Linked DNA regions of Homo sapiens. The protein of the gene in region 1 purifies or fractionates together with the protein of each later gene. This does not show direct contact. Each region holds a gene or a part of one and is shown in the gene's direction. Other genes may lie near its edges.

Evidence for each region. The genes of interacting proteins can lie anywhere in the genome.
Region 2: the proteins of PTP4A2 (region 1) and CNNM4 purify together in Homo sapiens (affinity purification with mass spectrometry; 7 studies listed by BioGRID and IntAct, with this or other methods). This does not show direct contact.

The regions. Positions count from the first base shown.
Region 1 is NC_000001.11:31,907,369-31,914,392, reverse strand, and holds part of PTP4A2 (protein tyrosine phosphatase type IVA 2), read left to right. Parts: intron 1-2,566; coding exon 2,567-2,697; intron 2,698-4,280; coding exon 4,281-4,355; intron 4,356-5,432; coding exon 5,433-5,541; 3' UTR 5,542-7,024.
Region 2 is NC_000002.12:96,756,930-96,763,909, forward strand, and holds the start of CNNM4 (metal transporter CNNM4 precursor), read left to right. Parts: upstream 1-3,972; 5' UTR 3,973-4,070; coding exon 4,071-5,472; intron 5,473-6,980. UniProt on the Homo sapiens protein: Probable metal transporter. The interaction with the metal ion chaperone COX11 suggests that it may play a role in sensory neuron functions. May play a role in biomineralization and retinal function.

The DNA.
Region 1 (7,024 bases):
AAATGTGTTTTAAAAAAATGTGTTTTAGGGCCCTGTGTGGTGGCTCATGCCTGTTCCCACCACTCTGGGAGGCCAAGGTAGGTGGATCACTTGAGTCCAGGAGTTCCAAGACTAGTGGGGCAACATGGTGAAACCCTGTCTCTCCGAAAAATACAAAAATTAGCTGGACGTGATGGCATGCACCTATAGTCCTAGCTACTTGGGAGGTTGAGGTGGGAGGATCACCTGAACCCGAGAGGTCAAGGCTGCAGTGAGCCATGATTGTGCTGCTGTGCTCCAGCTTGGGTGACAGAGACCTTGTCAGTCAATCAGTCAATAATGTGTTTTAATAGTTTGGCATGGTAATAATTTGCTTGCAGTCAAATTTCTAAATGACTTTACTGTCCACTGCTGGAAATCACTGGGAATGAGTGTAAACATGTCAAATGCAGCCCTGTGTTTAAAAAGTAGTAATAAAATTTAAACTTCCGAAAATAAGCTGCATACAAGTTTATTTTGCTGCATTATGAATATGTTCTCTAGTGAGCAAAAATCAACTTGTTTTGACAGATGGCAGAGTGAGAAAATGACTGGATTGACCATAGTCTGTTTGAGTCAGTAATGTTGGTAAACATCTTTGTGAAATAGAAATGAACTAAAGAACTTGAACTAGTTTGAGGAAGATAATGGTAGGCCTAAGATTTATTCCAGGCCTTTAAATTTAGGTTTTTGTTTTGTTTTAAATAGCTGTGATCTGGGAAATGCAAATCAAAAGCACAATATGATACCACCTTACTCCTGTAAGAATGGCCGTAATCAAAAAATTAAAAAAAAAAATAGATGTTGTCAGGGATGTGGTGAAAAGGGAACACTTGTACACTGCTGGTGGGAATGTAAACTAGTACAACCACTATAGAAAACAGCGTGGAGATTCCTTAAAGAACTAAAAGTAGAACTATCATTTGATCCAGCAATCCCATTACTGGGTATCTACCCAGAGGAAAATAAGTCATTAAAAACAAACAAACAAACAAATAAATAAATAGCTATGATCAGATAAAATGAAAGGTTTAACTTACACTTGAAAAAACAAGGGCATTTAGCCTTAAGCTTGGAATTTCCTTTTCCCAGACAGAGATTTTAAGAGTTAATCTAATTTTGCTAGGTGAGGAGGGTTTTGGAACATTTCATGGTAAGAGGATATCCCCAAATAAGGCCTGTCAGTCCTCTGAATGCTCTTGCAAACCAGACACACATTGGAATAGACTAATGGTGGTTTTAGCTGTATCAATTTGAGGTTCAGATGTTTCTAAATGATTAATGATTTTTTTAAAAATAGACACTACTTATATGAGTAAGTGAAGCATGTTTTATATTGTTTCTTAACTAGGTGCATTTTAGGGAGTATTAGAGGAAGTAAGCTCTTGACTAAGGTACTGGTTTTATTGCTATTTACAGTTAAACTCTCTAGTGACATTTATAATAACACAGTCCTTTAATTATGGGGCGTAGTTGTCAACTCAATCATGTACTGTTTTGGCTAATGGGCTACATGAAGTGTTCTAGTGGTGCCAATAATGAATGCAGAATCAATTTAATGCTCTGTCACTTTTCTCTTTTTCCTCCCCTAATATCTTAAAGTGTCCTTATCCAATCTCATTAGAATAGCCTTATGTTTTTAAAAAAATTCCTAACAGTGTTTTTGCATTTCTATCTTTGAAGCTTAGATGGCAGGAGGGAAGGCTTGTAAAATGTCAGCCCCCAGTCCCCCTCCTCCACTCCCCATTTGTGTTGGTTTCTTAGGACCTCTTGCTAAGTAGTGAGGAAGATAAACCCCTGCCTATACTGTGAATGCTCGTGGGATTAGTCTTAATTGAAAGATAGCCCAAATAGGTGAATACAGAAAGAGAAAGGGATACTTGACAAAATGGTCTCCATTTGCCCAGGACCCTGTCATGCAGCCCTGTCCTTGTTAAATGGGGACATATATAATTTAGTAAGCACTTTAAAAATACTCACTGCTTGCCTTTTAATAAGCACAAAGATGGTAGTTTGTTTCTGTTATGATTTACTAACTATTGGAGATTTCTTATCAGATAACCTTTCTCTAAAGATGTCATAACTTAGTTATCTTGAATTATAATCTTCAATTATCTGTAGAGACCAATGAGACACCAGTTGGTATGCTTTGCCAGAGTGGACTTTTAAATCATGTTGACATGTGCTGTGTCCTCTGTTACTTTGTCTTGGCTTTAATTACAGTTTTGTCTATTATGTCTAATTACTACTCTATTCAGATATCATTTTTGGGAGAACACTAGCTCTTATGACTCTGATAGAGATTTCTGTAAGTTTTTGTAAATTCAGATGTGTGCGACACTGCATTGAGAAGGGTAATTTATTTGGCAAACTTTAATTTCAATCCTGGATCATTTTACAGCAATGATCAGAATTGTGTTAACAATAGGTATATATAGTGCAGTTAGTTCAGTTAGGCCTGCCGTGTGTACTGTGTGCAGGTATTCTGTATTAGGATGTTAATCATGGAGAAAATATCAATTTAATGTAAAAGGTCATTTCTTTTCAGGATTGGCCATTTGATGATGGAGCTCCACCCCCTAATCAGATAGTAGATGATTGGTTAAACCTGTTAAAAACCAAATTTCGTGAAGAGCCAGGTTGCTGTGTTGCAGTGCATTGTGTTGCAGGATTGGGAAGGTAAACTCTTACCTTTATTACCCTTTTTGTCTGAATTCATTACCATGCCTAAGTTAGTTGAAAGTTTCACTTTGGTAGACATTTGCATATATTATACTAAATAACATTAAATTACCTGAAAGGAAAGGAAATGAGAGGAAAAACTAGTGTAATGATTTCTCAAAAGAGCCTGTTCATTTCATCTGGTTGTCTGATTCTGATGCCAGCCTGGATTGTGGGTGTTTTATTTTTCTCCCTATTTCAAGTAATCAAAAGTTCAGGTCACTGAAATTGGCAACAAAATTAAAATAATTTTAGAGTTTGATGAATCTATACATGGTTAATTTTGGACTGAGATGAATGGGAAGTTAATAGATAGCAGATATCTGAACTTTAAACTCTTGAAAGAAGATGTATGGACAAGAATTGACTTTGATCTTAAAACCTTTTCCCCTGAGCATTGCTTAGAATGGTGTTGCAACGCTGTCATCAGCAGCAGATTAAATGCCAATTTAGGATGCACACTTTGACTCAAAACATTAGTGTAGGCTGCCATTGCCTCAAGGTGGTGATTACTCAAGCTGTTAGTTCTGCTCTGCCCTTTTGTTTGCTATTTCCTTTTTTGTAGTGTGGTACTGTTTGTTCATAAGGTTAGAAGTTTTAGTCCTTATCCTGAAGGTTGAAGATAATGTTGTAACGTGAGTTGGCAGTTTTATAACTAGTAGCTATCCTAGTTTTAGGTAGCCCAAAATTGGTGCCCTGTAATGGGCTTTATAAAAACATCATTTCCTTTGTTAAATTTTTTTAAAAAGATAGAACTTCTTCTAGTCATCAATTCTTGGGCATTTTCCTAGCTCATCAAAAGGATTTTCTTGAAAACGTCTAGCACCTTTTTAGCATTTGATAAGGAAATATTAAAATCAATTGGTAATGAAAATTCTGACACATTGGAGATAAGTAATATGTTTGGTCATTTATTTTACTGTGATAATGGCTAAAGGCCAATGAAGGATTTTTGATCATATCTAGTGATGAGAGAATTTAATATATAATGTGATGTTTTAAAGAGTAAAGATTTCTTAAGGTTTAGAATTTAGTGCTTTACTAAAAGTAGATAATCAGGCTGGGCGCTATGGTTCACGCCTGTAATCCCAGCACTTTGGGAGGCGGAGGCAGGCAGATTGCTTGAGCCTAGGAGTTCAAGAGCAGACTGGGTAACACGGAGAAACCCCGTCTCTACTAACTATTAAAAATCAAAAATTAGCTGGGCATGGTGGCGGGCACCTATAGTCCGAGCTATTTGAGGAACTGAGGCAGGAGGATCACCTGAGCTTTGGGAGGTTGAGGCTGCGGTGAGCCGTGATTGTGCCACTGCACTCTGGCCTGGGTGATAGAGCGAGACCCTGTCCCCTGCCCCGCCAAAAAAAAAAATCATAGAATTAATGATGATGAGATATATTTACTGTATTAGGCAGATACCAGCTACTTTAGTATACAGGAAAAAGAAAGCTCATGCGTTGCATTGGTAATATGCAGTTACAGGTTTTTAAAAATCCTTTCACTCCAAGACTTATGGATACTTACATACAGGTTTCTTTCTGCAGGGCACCTGTGCTGGTTGCACTTGCTTTGATTGAATGTGGAATGAAGTACGAAGATGCAGTTCAGTTTATAAGACAGTGAGTATGAAGTTTTTGTGTTCAGAAACACAGAAAGCAAGATCATGCATGAGGAAGGAATTATGGAAGGGATATTCATTTATAGTATGGGATAATTTGCTTTTTTTGGCTTGAAGTATTATTTGAAGATGTAAAAAATTTAGAGCAAGTGATAGAGACTCAGTACAGCTGGTTTCCAGATTCAAAAGTTTTCTAATTTGGACATTATAGACTGTGTCCAGTATATTGTTTTGAGTATCTAGGAATCTCAAAAATGCCCCTTTTAATAGATTCCAAATACCTTCCAAATATAATTCTCTGTTAGGAGGAGGCAAGAAGAATGTGTAGAGGAGCAGTTAATCACCTGAGACTCTTTTTTTTTTTTTTGAGATGGAGTCTCGCTCTGTTGCTCAAGCTGGAGTGCAGTGGCTCAATCTCGGCTCACTGCAACCTCTGCCTCCTGGGTTCAAGCGATTCTACTGCCTCAGCCTCTCAAGTAGCTGGGACTACAGGCACGCACCACCACGCCCAGCTAATTTTTGTATTTTTAGTAGACGGGGTTTCACCATGTTGGCCAGGATGATCTCAATCTCCTGATCTCGTGATCCGCCCACCTCGGCCTCCCAAAGTGCTGGGATTACAGGCGTGAGCCACCACGCCTGGCCTCACCTGGGACTCTTAAGTGATCTATTCAGGGACAAAATCAGGATGGTAGTGCACAGACAGGATCTTGACATTGATCTGGAATAACGAATCATGCTATTTTGTTATCCAGAATTCTTTGACAATTTTTGTCTTGCCCTTTCCCTTTCAACCCTTCCTTTAAAAAAAGAAAACGAAAGTAGAAACTATTCTGATCTTTATTAAATGGTTAATAGACTATAATGACAGTCAGCAAGAAAAATTTTTCTATTCCTTCTAGGAGGGCTTAGAAAGTTCATGTTGCAACTTAGCTCTTTAAGAATTGTTGTAGTATGGGAAATATGCTGGTTTTCAGCTGTGTGGAATTAGAAAGGCTTTAGGATGTAAATAATGCATTTCAGTGAATCAGACAGCTCTTTTTTTACATGATAAAGTTTGCCATTCTTGTATTTTCAGAAAAAGAAGGGGAGCGTTCAATTCCAAACAGCTGCTTTATTTGGAGAAATACCGACCTAAGATGCGATTACGCTTCAGAGATACCAATGGGCATTGCTGTGTTCAGTAGAAGGAAATGTAAACGAAGGCTGACTTGATTGTGCCATTTAGAGGGAACTCTTGGTACCTGGAAATGTGAATCTGGAATATTACCTGTGTCATCAAAGTAGTGATGGATTCAGTACTCCTCAACCACTCTCCTAATGATTGGAACAAAAGCAAACAAAAAAGAAATCTCTCTATAAAATGAATAAAATGTTTAAGAAAAGAGAAAGAGAAAAGGAATTAATTCAGTGAAGGATGATTTTGCTCCTAGTTTTGGAGTTTGAATTTCTGCCAGGATTGAATTATTTTGAAATCTCCTGTCTTTTTAAACTTTTTCAAAATAGGTCTCTAAGGAAAACCAGCAGAACATTAGCCTGTGCAAAACCATCTGTTTGGGGAGCACACTCTTCCATTATGCTTGGCACATAGATCTCCCTGTGGTGGGATTTTTTTTTTCCCTTTTTTTGTGGGGGAGGGTTGGTGGTATATTTTTCCCCTCTTTTTTCCTTCCTCTCCTACATCTCCCTTTTCCCCCGATCCAAGTTGTAGATGGAATAGAAGCCCTTGTTGCTGTAGATGTGCGTGCAGTCTGGCAGCCTTAAGCCCACCTGGGCACTTTTAGATAAAAAAAAAAAAAAAACAAAAAACAACACCAAAAAAACAGCAGTGATATATATATATATATATATATATATATATATATATATATATATATATATATATATATATATATATAATATAATATATATATATATATATATATTTTCCAGGTGGTTTTTAGTCTTTACTGATGAAAGGGTGTTCATGTTAGTTTCTTCAAAACCCTATCTAATACTAGGCAAAGTAGCCAAGAGCCTTTTGTTTTGTTTTTATTTTGATAAATTAGTGGAGAAATGGCATTTTAAGAGGAGTCTCTTCTCAACTTACCTGAGAGTCGAATTCTTCTCTTCCCTAACCAATGAAGCTAAGTGGTTATCCCAGAAACTTGTCTTCTAAAAGGGAGGACTCCAGGCCATCAATAAAGATGTCCAGGCAGTGAGCGTACTTTTTACACCCTGTAGAATTGTGGGCTGTAGCGTTACTCTGATTTTCTGTCTAGTATCAGAGAATGCTGGTAGCTTAAAATTTTTATTTTAGGACTTGTACTCTGAATTTTCAGGAACCGTCAAAGGAGCAGCAGCAAATTCACATATTTTCGACTTGAGAAATGCTTGTGGTATGTGTTTTCCAAACTGCCCCCTATATGTAAAGTTCAGTTTAACCACTGATTGCCTTGTTATTACTAGGTTTTTTGAGATTAAAAAAAAAAAATCCCTGGTTTAAAACCAACAATGATGCCTAGTGAGTATGTGTCCACAGGCCATAACAGGGTAGAAGAGAGACATCGTGCAACCCAATGAGTAGTGAAGGGACTGTGTTGCTTGTGAAGCGGTGTAGTAGCATTTTTGCAGATTCTTGGCTGGGTTTAGTGTACTGATCTAGAAAAGCTGTTTTTCTGCTCCTTTGTG
Region 2 (6,980 bases), on another chromosome or scaffold:
GAAAAAGAAAAAAAATGATCCTGGCCACATCATTTTCATCATTATCATGGTGACTGGGCATGTTTATTGAGCTCTTACTATGGGCCAGGCACTTGTGAAGTACTTATGGCTCATCATTTCACTCAACACTCGAGAATGTCCCAGAGTCCCAGGTCACACAGGCAATCAGCAGCCAAGCCAGCCCCCAGGGTCCTTCAAAGCTGTGCTCTGAACCTCCATGGTGGGGTATCCTGCCTTCCATGGTCCTGCTCCCAAGAAAAACAATTTGTCCTATGGCCAGAGGAAGCTTGAAGCCCACTTACATAGTTAATACAAACCCCTTCACCTTTGCTGCTCTGGCATTCGACTTCCTTGGCCTGGACCCACTGATGTGATGCTCTCACTCCCTCCTCTGGCTCAATTAAACATTTGTCTCAGGCAGAAATCATGACATCCTCCTATCCAAGTCCTCATGCCCCCACTTGCTGGGATGACCTGAGTTGGGATTTGAGCACCACCCTAGCTAACTCCACGCTAACTCTGTCCTTCTGTAGAGGGTTGACTGCTCCTTCCTTCCTGAGACAATTTAACTGCATGGATGAGTCCTGCAGATGTTCAGGGCTATCATAGTAGACTCATGGGCAGCCGGTGAACAGGCCACTGCATGTACTGACGACGGGCATAGCTCACCCTGAAAAGATGTCTCATGGTCCCCAACCAGGTTCTCCAACCCCGGGGCCCACGGTGCACCCAGAGGGATTCTACCCATTGTGGGGCCAGGGCAGGCCTCAGGCTCTGAGCCCCACTAGCGGAAGGGCAGCTTCTCTGCCAGCAGCTTCTCTGCCAGCAGCTCCTCTGCCAGCAGCACCCCATCTTGGAGACCCAGAGGGTGAAGAGGGCTAAGAAGCTAGCCTGGGAGGATTAGATCCCAGGTTACTAATTCAGGATCCTTGTTCATCATCGGATCTCCAGCATCAGCATGATGCCAGGTACAAGTGAAGGGGCACTAAGCCTTTAAGACTGTTTCCCTGCACAGAACCAGAAGGGAGTGGGCTCAATTATGGGAGGTGTAGCCATGTTGCCATAGGGCTTACACCTGGAAAGAAGCAGTGAGCTCCAAGGATCTCATGACTAGGGTGCTGTTACATGCTCAGGGGTCCAGGATCAGGACTCCTCTGGGCAATTTCTACTTGCAAATAGAAGCAACTAGGTAAGTAAGGACTTGCCACCTTGAGGCAGAGAAAACAGGTTTGATCATGCCTTTATCTGCCCCCAAAGGAGAGAGGCTCCTCGCTTGCACGTTTGCTTTCTGCCATTCTCACCGCCTGGCTAACAGAGAGCCACACATGCATCCAAGCTTCCTGACTCAGCATGTTAATAGACTGCTATCTCCATGCTGTCCCTACGGTGGGAGAGGTATTTCGACATGGCAGATGCAGAAAAGGCAGACTCCCTAACCAGGGTTGCAAGCTGGCAGCAAATGAACCTGGACTTCGGCCTGGGCCCCGTGTGCCTTCTCCAACAAGTGATACTGTGTTTATCTTTTTATTTTTATTTATTTATTTATTTATTTATTTATTTATTTATTTATTTTTTGAGATGGAGTCTCGCTCTGTCACCCAGGCTGGAGTGAGTGGCGTGATCTCGGCTCACTGCAACCTCCGCCTCCCGGGTTCAAGTGATTCTCCTGCCTCAGCCTCCCGGGTAGCTGGGACTACAGGCGTGCATCACCTCACCTGGCTAACTGTGTATTTTTAGTAGAGACGGGGTTTCATCATCTTGGCCAGGCTGGTCTTGAACTCCTGACCTCAGGTGATCTGCCCGCCTTGGCCTCCCAAGGTCCTGGGACTACAGGTGTGCACCATCATGCCAAGCTAACTTTTTATTTTTTAAATTTTTAGTGGAAATGAGTTTTTGCTATGTTGCCCAAGCTGGTAATCCCACATTTAACCTAAATATCTAAAAAACTTATTTTTCCTTTTCTTTATTGGCTTCTGTCATTAGACTCAGTGCATATGAACAGAGCTTCTGAGTGTAGACAGCCTGAAAAGGGTAAAATAAAAGGAGCCAATTCGTACTTAAGCAGAAAAAAGACATAATAGAGAAAAAAATAAAATCATAAGAAAAAGGGAAAAAATAGCCAATTGATTGATAATAGAATGGGAAAGTTTCTAAGTATGGGAGGTGGGGGTAGGGGTGGAGCAGGGCGCTGGTGTTACAGCTCACTAGGAGATGAGGAGAGCTGGGTTTGCTTTGAGGCAATTCAGGTAGCTCTTCCTGGTTGGTGGAGACAGGGAAGGAACAGGCAGTCAAGGTTCTGCTTTTGTTCTGTCTCAGCCAGTGCCCATTCCAAGGCTCCTATTCCTCGAAAAAACTGACCTGCTGGGCACTCACTGCAAAGTATCCGCTATGAGTGGGGCCCCTACTAGCAACATACTTCTCCAGGCTGGCCTAGTTTACAGAACCCTCAATCCCAGCTAACAGGGCTTTCTTGAGTCAGGGCCTCTCTGCTACCACACCTCCTCCCACAACATTGTGTGATCCTTTCTGTTTAGGCTCCTTCCGTTTGGTACTGATTGCTGCTTTTATTAGCAAACATTACACCAAAATGAAAATAAATACAAGTGTCAGTGCGGGAAGGGAGTAAAGTGGGTTCTGTGTCTTCAGTACTGGCAAAAGATTTGCTGTGAGACCTGGTGGTCAACCCAGTACCTGATCTTCTCTGTGCACCTGTGCAATTATTGTAAGGATGTTTATCTGTCTGTCTTCTTCCCCCTCACAGGGCGGGCAGCTGTGGTCTTCCTTATACACCCTACTGACACAGGGCTAGGGCCATTCAGGAAGCAGTCATTTCAGGGATAGGCCCACTGCCGCGCCTGCCTGCTCATGTCCACAAGCAGCTGCCCAGCTGATCAATCACCACAATTTGGGGTTAGGAGTTTGGTCCTGGAAGGCAGGTAGCAACAACTACTACCTAGCCAAAGAATATTCTAAAGAGCTGTCCTGTCATGTTCAATGTCTAGGTCCACAATCCCGCAAGCTTAGCGAAGTAATGCTCTGTCATTCTTACCCCCATTTACAGATGGAGAAATGGGCTGGGAGATGACAGTATGGAGGCACCAGGATTTTTGTCTCGGCTCAATTTCTGCATCTCTAAATGGAAATAATTCTACTAACTCTGAGGGTTGTTGGGGGGATTTAATGAATATATGTGTTTACTTGTTTATCTCCTGTTTTCTGTTCTAGACTGTAAACCCCAATGGGCAGCGACTTTGGCTTGTTCACTGCTCTATTGTCAGAGCCTAGAACAAGTGCCTGGTACAAAGTAGGTGTTCAATAAATATCTATGCCTAAATGGAAGAGACAGGAGAGAAGTCTAGGCCAGAGCCTGCCCCTTCTATAACCTTAGTTCCCCAGATTTGCCTTCCACATCAGGCAGCCACTGGTTGATGGAAGCATCGTCGGGCTGGGGCTGGGGCTGGGGTAACCTACTTCTGGCCTTAGGACAAGGTCGGCAAAAATCTCAGCAGTGAGGAGGCCAGAAAAGTCTCCAAGGGGCAGGCTGCAATGCCAGCCTAAGCCCTCAGGTTTCCTTTTTCTTTTTCTACATCAGGAAAAGCACTTTTCTCGCCCTGCCTGCAGAGCGGGCCACCCCTAGCTGCAGGTGAGGGACGGGAGAGGAGCCTCCCACGTGCGGCCGTGCGAGGCCGAGGAACAGGAACGGCGTAGCTAGGAGACCAGGTCCCGGAGAAGGAGAGCTGGCCCCACTGGCAGAGAAAGGCGGGGAAGGGCGCGGAGGCGGAGCACTGGGCGGGTACCCGCTGGCGGCTCTCGCGCGGCGGCGCTGCTCCACCTTAAGCGACTGTACCCCCTTAAGGGCGGGCGCTCAAGCAGCGAGCCCCGGGGGCGGGGCCTCCAATGCAAATGAGGGGCGTGGGCAGGCGGGGCGGGGCGGGCGGGGCGCTGACCTGACGTCAGGCTCGCGGCCCGGGCAGTTGGCTCGGCGGCAGCGGAGCGGCCGGAGCTGCGGTGCGGACCGGGGCCGCGCGGCGTGGCGCGGGGAGCGGCGGCGGCGGCAGAGCCAGAGCAACATGGCGCCGGTGGGCGGGGGCGGGCGCCCGGTCGGCGGACCGGCCCGCGGGCGCCTCCTCCTGGCGGCGCCGGTGCTGCTGGTGCTGCTGTGGGCGCTGGGGGCCCGGGGCCAGGGCAGCCCCCAGCAGGGCACGATCGTGGGCATGAGGCTGGCGAGCTGCAACAAGTCGTGTGGGACGAACCCGGATGGCATCATCTTCGTGTCCGAGGGCAGCACCGTGAACCTGAGGCTGTACGGCTACAGCCTGGGCAACATCTCCAGCAACCTGATCTCCTTCACCGAGGTGGACGATGCCGAGACCCTCCACAAGTCCACCAGCTGCCTCGAGCTCACCAAGGACCTGGTCGTCCAGCAGCTGGTCAACGTGAGCCGCGGGAACACGTCCGGCGTGCTGGTGGTGCTCACCAAGTTCCTCCGGAGGAGCGAGAGCATGAAGCTGTATGCACTGTGCACCCGGGCCCAGCCCGACGGGCCCTGGCTGAAGTGGACGGACAAGGACTCACTGCTCTTCATGGTGGAGGAGCCTGGGAGGTTCCTGCCTCTCTGGCTGCACATTCTCCTAATTACGGTGCTGCTGGTGCTGTCGGGCATATTTTCTGGCCTCAACCTCGGGCTTATGGCCCTGGACCCCATGGAGCTGCGCATCGTGCAGAACTGTGGCACCGAGAAGGAGAGGCGCTATGCCCGCAAGATTGAGCCCATCCGGCGCAAGGGCAACTACCTTCTCTGCTCGTTGCTCCTAGGGAACGTGCTGGTCAACACCTCCCTCACAATCCTTCTAGACAACCTCATCGGGTCCGGCCTCATGGCGGTGGCCTCCTCCACCATTGGCATTGTCATCTTTGGGGAGATCCTACCTCAGGCCCTGTGCTCCCGACATGGGCTGGCTGTGGGTGCCAACACCATCCTTCTCACCAAATTCTTTATGCTACTCACCTTCCCCCTCAGTTTTCCCATTAGCAAGCTCCTGGACTTTTTTCTGGGCCAGGAGATTCGCACTGTTTACAACCGGGAGAAGCTGATGGAGATGTTGAAGGTGACGGAGCCCTATAATGACCTCGTGAAAGAGGAGCTCAATATGATCCAGGGTGCCCTGGAACTACGGACCAAAACTGTAGAGGATATCATGACCCAGCTCCAGGACTGCTTCATGATCCGCAGCGATGCCATCCTGGACTTCAACACCATGTCGGAGATAATGGAAAGCGGCTATACTCGCATCCCGGTGTTCGAAGACGAGCAGTCCAATATTGTAGATATTCTCTACGTCAAAGACTTGGCCTTTGTGGACCCCGATGACTGCACCCCCCTCAAGACTATCACTCGCTTCTATAACCACCCGGTGCACTTTGTCTTCCATGACACCAAGTTGGATGCCATGCTGGAGGAGTTCAAGAAGGGTAAGGCCAGATGTAGTTCCCCTGGTTCAATTTCCTCTTGACGCCTCTTTTCCCCTGGCGTGTTTTGTGTCTGCTGGCTTTAGTGTTCTGTTTGTGTGACTCTGTGTCCCTTTGCCTATCGCTTCCTATGCTTCTGAGGTGAACGATTTTGGAGCGGTAGACCCATTCTCAAGTGTCTGCCGTCTGCCAGGTAGTGTGCTGTGTGCTCCTGATGAATCAAAGCTGAATAAGACATACTCGCTCCCTTGGAGGGCTGGAGCAAGACCTCAGGGAGCTATTGAAGCAAGACAGAGTAAGACAGATGCCTGAAAAGAGGCCAGGGCGATGGAGATTTAGAGTATGGGGTGGAGTCAGGAAGGGGCTGGGAAATTGGGGAATCCACAGGGGAAGGAGCATTTGAGGAGAATCTTAAAAGGTAGAGAGGCTTGCTGCTTGAGGCAGAGGGAACCCCGCAAGCAGAGAACCGGAGTGGAGAAGCAAAAGTGTGCTTGTGGCCCAGCAGGTGGTCCTGTTTGGTGGGTATAGTGGCTCTGATGCTTAGTGGTCAATGGCTGGAGTAGTTTGGGGCCCGGTGGTGGACGCTAAGTTTGCTCCCAGCTTGGGAGCTACAGGTTTTTGAGCAGGGGAGTCATGTTACTGGAGGTGCTAGCCCACAGAAGCAGAATTGGGAGGTCTCTAATTGGCTCGCTTCTCAGAACAATGCCAAGTAGCGCTTTCGACTATTCAGCAGAAGCAAGCAGATTAAGTTTTGGTAATTGTGGCGCCAGCGTAAGCTTCCCTCCAGTGGTCTGCTGGAAATCTTCAGCTGCCTTGCACTGCCTTGTGTTTTTTTCTCACCTGGGTTCTTGGCCATTTCGCAGGTAGTTAGAGAGGCATTTGGAGGGTTTACTCATCAGCCTCAAAGCTCAAGGCACACACTCCTTTTCTTCCAGCAAAATTTTCCTCCCATCTCTGCCATTCAGAAACCCTCAAAGTGGCAGTAAACAAGCCAATTATGGAGTGGAACCCTCCCAGGCTGAAGGAAGTGAGGAGGCAGAAAGGGAAGCTCTTTTTTAAAGGAATGGGGGTGAGGGGCTCATCCTAAACTTGGGGACTTTGCTTTCTAAACATGCTCCCAGCCTTCATTCCCATAGGAGAGCTCCTACTGGCTGAGGCTGCTCAGGCCGACCTAGGGCTTGGAGGGACTTCGGAATCCTAGCAGGGAGTGAGCTGGCAGGTGTTTCTGTAACGGAGAGTGGAGGACAGCTTTGGAGTGGGATAGGGAGGAGCTGGCTTTGCCAGGTTTGGTCTGAAAAGATGCTGGGGTCAGGGCCAGGGTGGTGGGTTGGTACCCTCCTAAGTTCAACAGACTGAATCTTAGTATCGGAGCTGAGGACCACTTGAGTAAAGTAAGCCAGAGTCTGGGAGAGCCCCAGGGAAGGTGGCCTCCCTGCAGAGACTGGAGAGACAGACCCCTAGTGGTGAAGGCAGAGGCTGCGGTGGGGTGGGGGTGGGGGCGGCTTTGGGAG